Regions from separate parts of the Homo sapiens genome. Here region 2 is linked to region 1. The links come from fine-mapping of genetic effects on gene expression. A gene starts in region 1. The other region holds a variant in brackets. All regions are shown on one strand. Distances are between the middles of the regions. Region 1 holds the start of CCSER2 (coiled-coil serine rich protein 2). Region 2 has its middle 250 kb from the start of CCSER2.

Region 1 (5,384 bases):
CAAGTTATCCTCCTGCCTTGGCCACCCAAAGCTCTTGCTTGAGCCACCATGCCTAGCCAGGAGATTTCATCAGAGATTCTTGTCTGTTGTATTTTTTTTTTTCTTAGAGACAGGGTCTTGCTATGTTGCCCAGGTGGGGCTTGAACTCCTGGCCTCAGGCAATCCTCCAGCCTCAACCTCACAAGTAGCTGGAATTACAGGTGTGTGGGACTGCACCCAACTTGTCTGTTTTTGGATGGTCTCCAGAATCATCTCCTACTGGGGCTCTGGATCAACTGTTTCATTGTGCTGTTTGTCATGGAATCCTAAAACTTCCCCTGAAAGAATGTCTCTCTCTTACATCAAGAGGATGCCAAAAAAGGAGAATTTAGGTTGCAGATGGAATTAAGGCTGTTAATCAACTGGCCTTAAAATAAGGTTCTTATTCTAGAGCATCCAGTTGGACCCAACATAATCATGTGTCCTTAAAAGTGGAAGACTGAGACAGAAGAGGAGGTCAGAGTGATGCAATGTGGGAAGGACTCAAACTACTCTTGCAGGTTTTGAAGATGGAGGAAGGGCAGGCCGGGCACGGTAGCTCACACCTGTAATCCCAGCAGAGGCCGAAGCGGGCGGATCACTTGAGGTCAAGAGTTTGAGGCCAGCCTGGCCAACATGGTGAAATCCTGTCTCTATTAAAAATACAAAAATTAGCTCGGCGTGGTGGCACATGCCTGTAATCCCAGCTATTTGGAAGGCTGAGGCAGGAGAATCGCAGAACCTGGGAGGTGGAGGCTGCAGTGAGCCCAGATCTCACCACTGCACTCCAGTGTGGGTGACAGAGCAAGATTCCATCTCAAAAAAAAAAGAAAAGACCCAGGAAAATTAACTGAAAGCAAATAAAACGTATCAAGGATGCTTATAAAATTAGGAAAATACACTAAAATGCTATTGTGATTCTGCTAAGTATGTACATGTATTAGCATTATGGGAAAGTTTTTTCCTAGCCTTCTTTTTTTTTTTTTTTTTTTTTGGAGACAGGGTCTTGCTCTGTCACTCAGGCTGGAGTGCAGTGACATGATCACAGCTCACTGTAGTCTCAACCTCCTGGGCTTAAGTAATCTTACTGCCTCAGCCTTCTGAATAGCTGGAACTACAGGCATATGCCACTAAGCCTGGTTAATTTCTTTTTTTTTTAATAGACTAGGTCTCTATGTTGCCCAGGCTGATCTTGAACTCCTAGGCTCAAGTGATCCTCCCGCCTCAGCCTCTCAAAGTGTTGAGGTTACAGTCGTGAGCCACCACAACTGGCCTGGGCATTTTATTTTATTTTATTTTATTTTTGAGATGGAGTCTCACTCTGCCGCCCAGGCTGGAGTGCAGTGGCATGATCTCATCTCACCGCAACCTCCACCTCCCAGGTTCAAGCAATTCTCCTGCGTCAGCCTCCTAAGTAGCTGGGATTACAGGAATGCGCCACCACGCCCGGCTAATTTGTTGGTATTTTTAGTAGAGACGGGATTTCACCATATTGGCCAGCCTGGTCTTGAACTCCTGACCTTGTGATCCTCCCACCTTGGCCTCCCAAAGTGCTGGGGTTACAGGCTTGAGCCATCGCCTCCGGCCTGGTGTTTGCTTTTCTAATCTCACTTAATCCAAAGAGAGATTGCACAGCATTTAGACCTAGTCTTTGTCAATATTTTAAGCACACATTATTGTCCAATACATTAAATATCTTAGGGATTGATATTTAAAAGACATTATTTTCTAAATATGAAAGTGTATTATTAAATGAAGTGTGGTTATACAAATCAGGCATTCCGTCTGCTTTTTCCATTTGAGTATCATTGATCTGGAGACAGGAAAGAACTGGATATTTTTCAAGCAGTTCTCCTGAAATGTTATTACAACCGAGCTGTTGGGGCCGACGAGGATTTCAGAGAACTGCAAGTCTACAACCAGGTAAGGGCAACTCCAGAGCTTTAAACAGCCGGCCAGGCCCGGAAGCCTTCCAGGCTGAGGACTCTCAGCAGCAGGACTGGCCGCGTCGAGGAAAAACAAGAGGGGAAGAGATGGCCTCTGGGGGATGGAAGCCCCAAAGGGAAGAAAGACCTGGTTTCTGGCAAAGAAACCACATTGGCCAGGAGCTGTGGCTCACGCCTGTAATCCCAACACTTTGGGAGGCCAAGGTGGGAGGATTGCTTGAGCCCAGGAGTTTGAGACTAGCCTGTAAGACCACTTCCCCCAACTCTAAAAAGAAAAAATAAAAATTAGCCGGGTATTTGGGTCAACTTGTGATAGTTTACTTTGACTAGTGTGGTCTTAGTTGTAATTATTTCGGAGGCTTGGTGATACACGCCTGAGGCGAGAGGATCGCTTAAGCCCAGGAGGCTGCAAGTGAGCTGTGATAGCGCCACCGAACTCCAACCTGGGTGACAGGGCGAGACTCTGTTTCAAAAAAAAAAAAAAAAAGGGAAAACCAGATCAGCACTTGGGGTGCCCCTTCCCCTCAGCTTTAGCAAGATCCTGTGTTTTGATGCGGTAGGCAGGTGCGTGGTTCAGTCATGCCCAATGCTCAGACCACTCCTCACTTTTCACATCCAGGAGGAGGAGCTGTCAGGTTTGACCGCACTCAAGCAGCAAATGTAGTCCAGGGGACGGCTAGAGGTGAGGTCAGCCGCAAGACTGGCGTCACTGCGTGGGCCCAGCAAAAACCTGAGTCAGGAGGCGGCCAGGCAAGGTCAGTGGAGGGGGCGGGGCCCGAAGCGGAGGCGGAGCTTGGGAAAGCCTGGCGTGAGGGCGGGGCGGGGCCAGAGGTGGGCTGAGGCCGGATCAGGCGGTGGGGGCGGTCCCCGTAGCCCCGTGAGGCTCGCGCCTGCGCACGGGCCCGCGGCGGGGCGGGACTGCGCGTGCGCGGTGCGCCGGCCCTGGAGGGCGGAGTCCGGGCGGGCGCCGGCCGAGGGAGGGGGCGCGGCGGCTTTGGAGTCCGGCGCTCCCTCAGGCCGCGGACGCGATGCTGGTTGCTGCGGCTCGGGCGGCGGGGCTGGCGGGGATGTGACGGGCGGCCCTTCGTCTCACCTTCCGTCCTCGGGCCCGCAGGTCGCAGGGCGGCCTGCAGCTGGGCCGCGGCCGAGGAGGCAGCGCGACCTCCGCACGGTGAGATCCGGGCTCAGGGCCAGAGCCGGGGCCGGGGTCGCGGCGGGCGCCGGGGGCAGCCCAAGACCAGGCACGCAGTCCGGGGCGGGGCGGAGGCCCGAACTCCCGGGCTGAGGCGGTGTCGCCCTCCCGTACCCGGCCTCCAGGGTGAGCCTCTCTAGCCCCTCGCGAGCCGCCGGACGCGGGGCGGGCGCGGACCCGGGAGGCCGGAGGGCGCCCTCCCTGCGGCTGTGACAGCGCGGGGCCTCGGGCCGCGGGCGCCGCCGCCTTTCAGGAGAAATCAGGGCGAGGCTGAGGCACTCTGATTTCGGAGCCTGGTTGCGTGTGAGGGTGGATAGGGAAAGTACCGGGGCTCCCCGAATGAGTTCGATTTTTTTTTTCTTTCAATTACTGGGCTAAATGAAAGACACACCCTAAAACACATCCTGAGGTGAAACTTTGGTGGGGCACACCGTTGCCGTAGGTTCAGATCTTCTCTCTTGTCTTTAGACATGTATTTTCATACATTTTTAAATAATGCACCTACTTTCTTGATAAAGTAAAAGGAGGAATGAAGGGACTCCTTTGTGGTGGTCCTTGGTGGCGAAGCTTGTTTCCATTTCAGTAATTGCATATTCATCTGTGTGGGCTCCCCGACCAATGAGGCTGGCTGCTCCCAGACAAGGCCTTAGCGGAGTGGAAATGACTGACGCAGGGACTCTGGTCTCAGATTAGAGTGTTGGTAGCTCACTCCTGTAAGAGAGAAATTGAGCTTTAAGCTTTTTAAAATAGCCATATGAAAAGCATTCCTTTTCTCCTGAGCATTAAAATATGACGGAACCTATTCATTTGGCCAGTTGTTTTTTTTAAAGCATCATCTTTTAGACTAGAGACTTTAGAGATGGCAGCTGCTCTTTAACCAAAAGGAACTTAAGATGCTCTCCTGCAAAAGATGGGTTCAAAACATGTCTTATCCGTCATCCATATGTGATAAAAATGTAAATATTCCTGAGTGTTTGCCTGAAATCAGTCTTCTTCCTCTTGGACTTTATTACTGTTTCTCTTAATTTATGAAAGCTTGTTACTGTTATTTTTTGTTTTCGTTTGTGTTCTAAACAACATTGGCTTCAAATAATCTTCAGGTTAAAAATGCACACTTTGTTGAACCCTTTAGCCATAATTCATACTGTCGTACTTCAGCATAAGCCATAGTTAAGAAAGCACTAGAAGCCATCCTGAAAGCAAGCCGAAAGTCTCTATTAAGAATTCTGTAAAAATTCTACCTTTCCACATTCAGACCTGCATTTTTTGTTGCTTTGACTCAACTCCTTTGACTATTTTGGAGGAAGGGACTTTGAATCCATATTTACAAGTCCTTCAGTGACTCTCCATAGTCTATATCGATAAAATTCAAAGTCCTTCATGATTAGCGGTATTTGTCTCCATTCTAGTGTCATCTTCTACCATTATGCCTGCCCTCTCTATATAAGACTGTTGCAGTTCTCTGAAGATGACATCTTCCTCTGTGGTTTTTCAGTGTTCTTTGTTGAGAATTCTCTACCTAGTAAACAACTTGCCCTTGAAGACCTTACGAAAGTAGCACTTCTGAGGCTTGTCTAGACATTTCATCCCTCTTGTCTTAACTGATTCGTACACTCTCCAGTTAGTATTTGTCAACTGGTAGTTAATGATTTGTTTATGTGTCTGTCTCCACCAGGTTTTGGGGTTTCTTTTGTGTTTTTTGAGACAGAGTCTTGCACTGTGGCCTGGGCTGGAGTGCAATGGCCTCATCTCGGCTCACTGCAACTTCTGCTTCCTGGGTTCATGCGATTCTCTTGCCTCAGCCTCCTGAGTAGCTGGAATTATAGGCACACACCACCACACCTGGCTAATTTTTTTTTAGTAGAGACGGGTTTCAGTATGTTGGCCAGACTGGTCTCAAACTCCTGACCTCGTGATCCGCCCACCTCGGCCTCCCAAAGTGCTGGGATTGTAGGCTGGTTAGGAATGAAACCCCAGTTATGTTAAAAAAAATCCATTTTATGATACAGGAATAAAAAGGGCATGACCAATAAAGATTGCTGCTTCATTGGTCCTACAACTTTATTTTGAGGCGCAAAGTCACGCAGGTAGAAAGGGATGGCGGGGATTACAGTCCAGGTCTTTTGACCATCTGTGTATTTCACTTTTGCCCCCAGTCTCCTAATTCTAAATCTTAATTGTTTTACAATTTGAATGGGAGTTGTGAGCGACTTGGATGTGTTCTGAAA
Region 2 (5,384 bases), 250 kb after region 1:
GGATTATATGCCATGACCAAGTGGGATTTATCCTAGGAATGCAAGGTTGGTTTAACATTTTAAAACAATCAGTCCATGTACTAAACCATGTGAATAGAATTTTAAAACCATAGTGATATTAATAGACATAGAAAAATCATTTTACAAAATCTCACAAAATCATTTCACTATTTTATGACATATAGAGAACAAAGTAGCAATAGAAAGGAACTTTCTTTGCATGATAAAGGGCATTGACAAAAAAATCCGTAACTGACATCACACTGAATAATGATATACTGGATGCTTTCTCACTAAGATCAGTAACAAGACAAGGAAGTTTGCTCTTATAACATCTATTGAACATTGTGCTGCAGGATCATGCCAGTGGATTAGGCAAGAAAATAAACTAAATGGCATCCAGTCTGGAAAAAAATAAGTAAAACTATAATTGCAGATGCCATAATCTTGTATATAGAAAATCTTAAGTAATCCATACACACAAAACTGTTAGAACTAATAAGTTCAGAATTATTGCAGGATTAATGTATTGCAAGATTAATGTGTAAAAGTCAACTGTATTTCTTTTTTTTTTTTTTAAGTGAGGTCTCACTCTGTCACCCAGGCTGAAGGGTAGTGGCATGATCATAGCTCACTGCAGCCTCTATCTCCCAGGCTCAACTTATCCTCCTGGCTCAGCCTCCCAAGTAGCTGGGATTACAGGTGTGTGACACTGTGCCTGGCTAATTGAAAACATTTTTTTTTTTCCAGTAGAGATGAGATCTCTCTATGTTGCCCAGGCTGGTCTCAGACTCCTGAGCTCAAGCAATCTTTCTGCCTCACCTCCCAACATGCTGGCATTACAGGCATAAGCCACTGCACCTGGCCTCAATTGTAGGTCTATATGCTAGGAATGAATAATCAAAAAATGAAATTTAAAAATTTCATTTGTAGTAACATCAAAAATAATATAAGACTCAGGAATAATTTTCACAATAAAGCACAAGACTTCTACACTAAAAACTACAGAATGTTGTTGAAATAAACTAAATAAAACCTAAATCAATGGAAGGACGTTCTATGTTCATGGATTGAAAGATAGTATTATTTAGATGGCAATACTCCTCAAATTGTTCTACAGATTCTACACAATTCCAATTAAAGTACCAGCTGTTTTTTCCCCCCAGAAATTGACAAGTTGATCTTAAAATTTATATGAAAATGCCAGGAACCCAGAATATTCAAAACAATCTTGAAAAATAAGAACAAAGTTTGAAGATTCACAGTTTTCAATTTTAAAACTGACTCTAAAGTTACAGTCACCAAGACAGTGTGGTACTGCCATAAGGATAGACATATAGATCAATGAAATAGAATTAGAATGCAGAAATAACCCATTATATGTACGGTCAATTGATTTTTAACAAGGCTTCCCAGACAATTTAATGAAGGAAAGAATAGTCTTTTCAAGAAATTTTGCTGGGACAACTGGATATCCACATGCAAAAAAAATGAAGTTGAACACCTTATCTCACACAATATATATATAACTAACATAAAATGGACCACAGATCTAAATGTTAGAGAAACTATTACACCCTTAGGTGAAAACATAGGGGTAAATCTTCATGACCTCGGGTTAGACAATGGTTTATTAAATATAGCACTGTAACTTGATTACCTCTGTAAAGAAAAAAATATAACACTAAAAGCATAAGCAACAACAACAAAAAATAGATAAATTAGATGTCATCAAAATGAAAAACTTATACTTCAAAGATACTATCCAGAAATTGAAAAGAGAACCCACAGAATGGGAGAAAATACTTGCAAATCATATGTCTGATAAGGGACTTGTATCCAGAGTCTATACAACTTAATAAACAGACAACTTTATTAAGCCATTCTTGTTTTGCTATAAGGGAATATCTGAGACCCACCCAGAGCAACTTTTACTCCTGCAAGCTCCATTCATGGTAAGTACCCTACACAGGTGTGCCATTTTTATCTTTTATACTGTATTTTTTACAGTTCCAGTTCTATGTTTGGATTCAGATACTTACCATTGTGTTATTTACAATTGCCTACAGTATTCTAACATGCTGTGCAGGTTTTTAGCCTAGGAGCAGCAGGTTATACCATATAGCCTAGGTGCATAGTAGGTTATATCATTTAGTGTGAGTACACTCTATGATGTCTGCACAATGACAAAATGGCCTAAAGACACATCTCAGAATATATCCCCATGGTTGAGTGATGCATGACTGTATATATGTGTGTGTGTGTATGTGTATACATATGTTTGTATATGTAGAATATATATGTGTA[T/C]ATATATGAGGGTAGGGGTAGGCTGTATTTAAGTATGCCAACAATTGAAACTTAGTGAGAAATAAATGTCTTCCAATTTTGAAAAAAAATGAGAGTATACAAGTATTTATATTAATGCTATATTTTTGAGAGTTTATTTAATCAAATAGTTTTGTGCTTTTTGAGAGCATGTTTCTTTAGTCAAGGACTTAAATGTTTCAAGAGATAAAGAGCTTCTTTTACCATGTGTGAGAACTTGGAGAAACTGTGGGAGAAATGAAAGTAAAGTATTAGAGAGGAGATAAAATAAATGCAGATGGTTGAATGAAATGCTGGAATCATGAGGATGGGCAGAACGTATTGAATGAAGAGAAGAATACTTGGGGAAGAGAAGAATGAAGAGTCCCTTAATACCAGTCAAATGAAAGTACTGGGTGTAAAATTATCAGCAAGCTGGAATGAGCAGAGAAGAACAAGGGAAATGGATGTTCAATCTAGAGACCTGCAATGCATGGTACTTGAGATAATAGCCAAACATACCCAATACCTGTAGAACTCTCTCACTGATAACTATTGAGATCGTTTGGAGCTGCGTAAGTTTCACAAGCTCCAACTCGTCAAATAATGAAAGGCATGAAGGGAAAATATTCAATGTGTTTATTATTTCTCTGCCTCCCCGACATGCACTCTTTCCTAGCTTGATATTCTACATTTAATGTTTTGTGACCTTTAAGTTTCCCACACAACAGAAGCCACTTCAGACCAAACATTGTTAATGGGCTTGTTCTCTACTGCCAATGACCAGAAGGCTGTCCCTGGCTTCCATTGGGGAAGAGGTGAATGAAGACCCAAGGTCAATGCTGCAGTACTAGTAGAAGTGACTAGTGGTTTCTGAACAGTCAGCAGACTGGACATCTGTGCATCTTCATGTTTTCTTTTAGGCAACTGGACAGTAAATGTTCCTCTCAAAGCTTTGGCAGCTGTGAGGATGGTTATTTTTGACTGTCTTTGAGATCACCCATGTGGGGTAGGATGCTGCTGCAGTCCACTACGGGGATGAGGCAGAGCTTGGCAAATCGTCTGTTGTTATTCTTCCTCCTCCATCTCCTCTTTCCAGTCTCCTCCTCCTGGTGGCCTTCTGGGCAATGTGTACTATGGGGAAGAAAGCAGCCCAGCAGCTCTGACAGAAGTATGAATCCCAAGTACTCCAAGGCTCAGGGACTCTGTGCAGGGCCAGTATTGAGTGACAATCTTGAGTGAGGCCAATCAGTATTACATCTATTGTCTCCTAACCAGTCCTCAGATGGTCTGTGCCAAGTGCCTAAGAAAAGGGGGTGTCAAATCATCTGAAACTGTGAGACAAATAAAAGAGCTATAAGGAAAAGGCACTCACAACCCCTATCTCTCACCATATAAAAATAAACTCAAAATGGATTAAAGACTTAAACGTAAGACCTGAAACTGTAAATCTACTAGAAGAAAACATAGGGGAAAAGCTCCATGACATTAGTCTGGGCGAAGATTACTTGCATATGACACCCAAAACACAGGTAACAAAAGTGAAAATAGACAAATAGGATTACATCGAACTAAAAAGCTTCTGCACAGCCAATGGAACAATCAGTAGAGTGAAGAGACAACCTGCAGAATGGGAGGAAATATTTGCAAACCACACTTCTGATAAGGAGTTAACGTCCAAAATATATAAAGAACTCGAACAACAGCAAGACAACAAATAATGAGATTAATAAATGGACAAAAGACTTGAATAGACATTTTTCAAAAGAAGACACACGAATGGCCAAATGTGTATGTAAAAATGTATGAAAAAATGCTCAACATCATGAATCATTGGAGAAATGCAAATTCAAGCCACAGTGAAATACGACTTCACATATTTTAGAAGGGCTTTAATCAAAAAGACAAAAGATAACAAATGTTGTTTAGGATGTGCAGAAAAGGGAACTCCTGCACATTGTTGGTGAGAATGTAGATTAGTACAGGCTTTCTGGAAAATAGCAGGGGGTCCCCCAACAAATTAAAAATAGAATTACCATATGATCTAGCAATTCCACTTCTGGGTATATATCCAAAGGAAATGAAATCCTTATACCAAAGAGGTATGTATACTCCCATGTTGATTGCAGCACTATTCACAATAGCCAAGATACAGAATCAACCTAAGTGTTCACCAGTGGATGAATGGATAAATAAAATATGTCTTATGTACACAATGGAATACTAGTCAGCCATAAAAAGGATGAAATCAGGCCGGGTACGGTGGCTCATGCCTGTAATCCCAGCACTTTGGGAGGTCGAGGCCAGCAGATCACGAGGTCAGGAGATCGAGACCATCTTAGCTAACACTGTGAAACCCCGTCTGTATTAAAAATACAAAAAAATTAGCCAGGCTTGGTGGCAGGCACCTGTAGTACCAGCTGCTTGGGAGACTGAGGCAGGAGAATGGCGTGAACCTGGGAGGCAGAGCTTGCAGTGAGCTGAGATTGTGCCACTGCACTCCAGCCTGGGTGACAGAGCGAGACCCCCAGTCTCAAAAAAAAAAAAGGATGAACTCCTGTCATTTCTAGCAAAAAGGTTGGAACTGGAGGTCATAATGTTAAAGTACGTCAGGGACAGAAAGACATATCCTGCATTTCACTTACATGTGAAACCTAAAAAAGGAGAGGGAGAATATGAAGATATTGGTCAAAGGGTACAAAATTTTAGTTACATGGGAGGTATACATTCAGGAGATCTTTTGTACAATGTGGTGATTATAGTTAATAACAAGTATAATTGAAAATTGCTAAGAGAGATTTTAAGTGTTCTCACCACAAAAATGGTAAGTACATGAGGTAATAGTGTATTATGATTGAGCCTTTCCACATTGTATGCATATTTCAAAACGTGTTGTCCATGACAAATATATACAAATTTTATCTATCAATTAAAACAAGTACACACACACACAAAGAAAAAGAAAAGTCACTCACACTGGTGCACCTTGGCCAAGGAAGAGAATGTCCAAAACTGGTGTGATGAAGACAGTTTGCCTTCAGAGCAATGAATAGGAATGAATAATGGGCTGGGCGTGGTGA

The links. PIP is the estimated chance that this variant, and not a neighbour inherited with it, causes the effect.
Region 2: its variant is the best candidate, but not a certain one, in a credible set for the expression of CCSER2 in whole blood (TOPMed, PIP 0.61).

What each region holds. Positions count from the first base shown.
Region 1 is chr10:84,325,674-84,331,057 of GRCh38, forward strand. CCSER2 (coiled-coil serine rich protein 2) reads left to right here and starts at 2,916. Exons shown (of 10, transcript NM_001284240.2): 1 at 2,916-3,135. RefSeq lists a silencer at 2,680-3,409 and enhancers at 3,460-3,809, 4,857-4,936.
Region 2 is chr10:84,576,782-84,582,165 of GRCh38, forward strand. No RefSeq gene overlaps it. Among named protein-coding and RNA genes, the nearest start is that of CCSER2, 250 kb to the left of the region's middle. The variant T/C (reference allele first, on the strand shown) is at 2,308.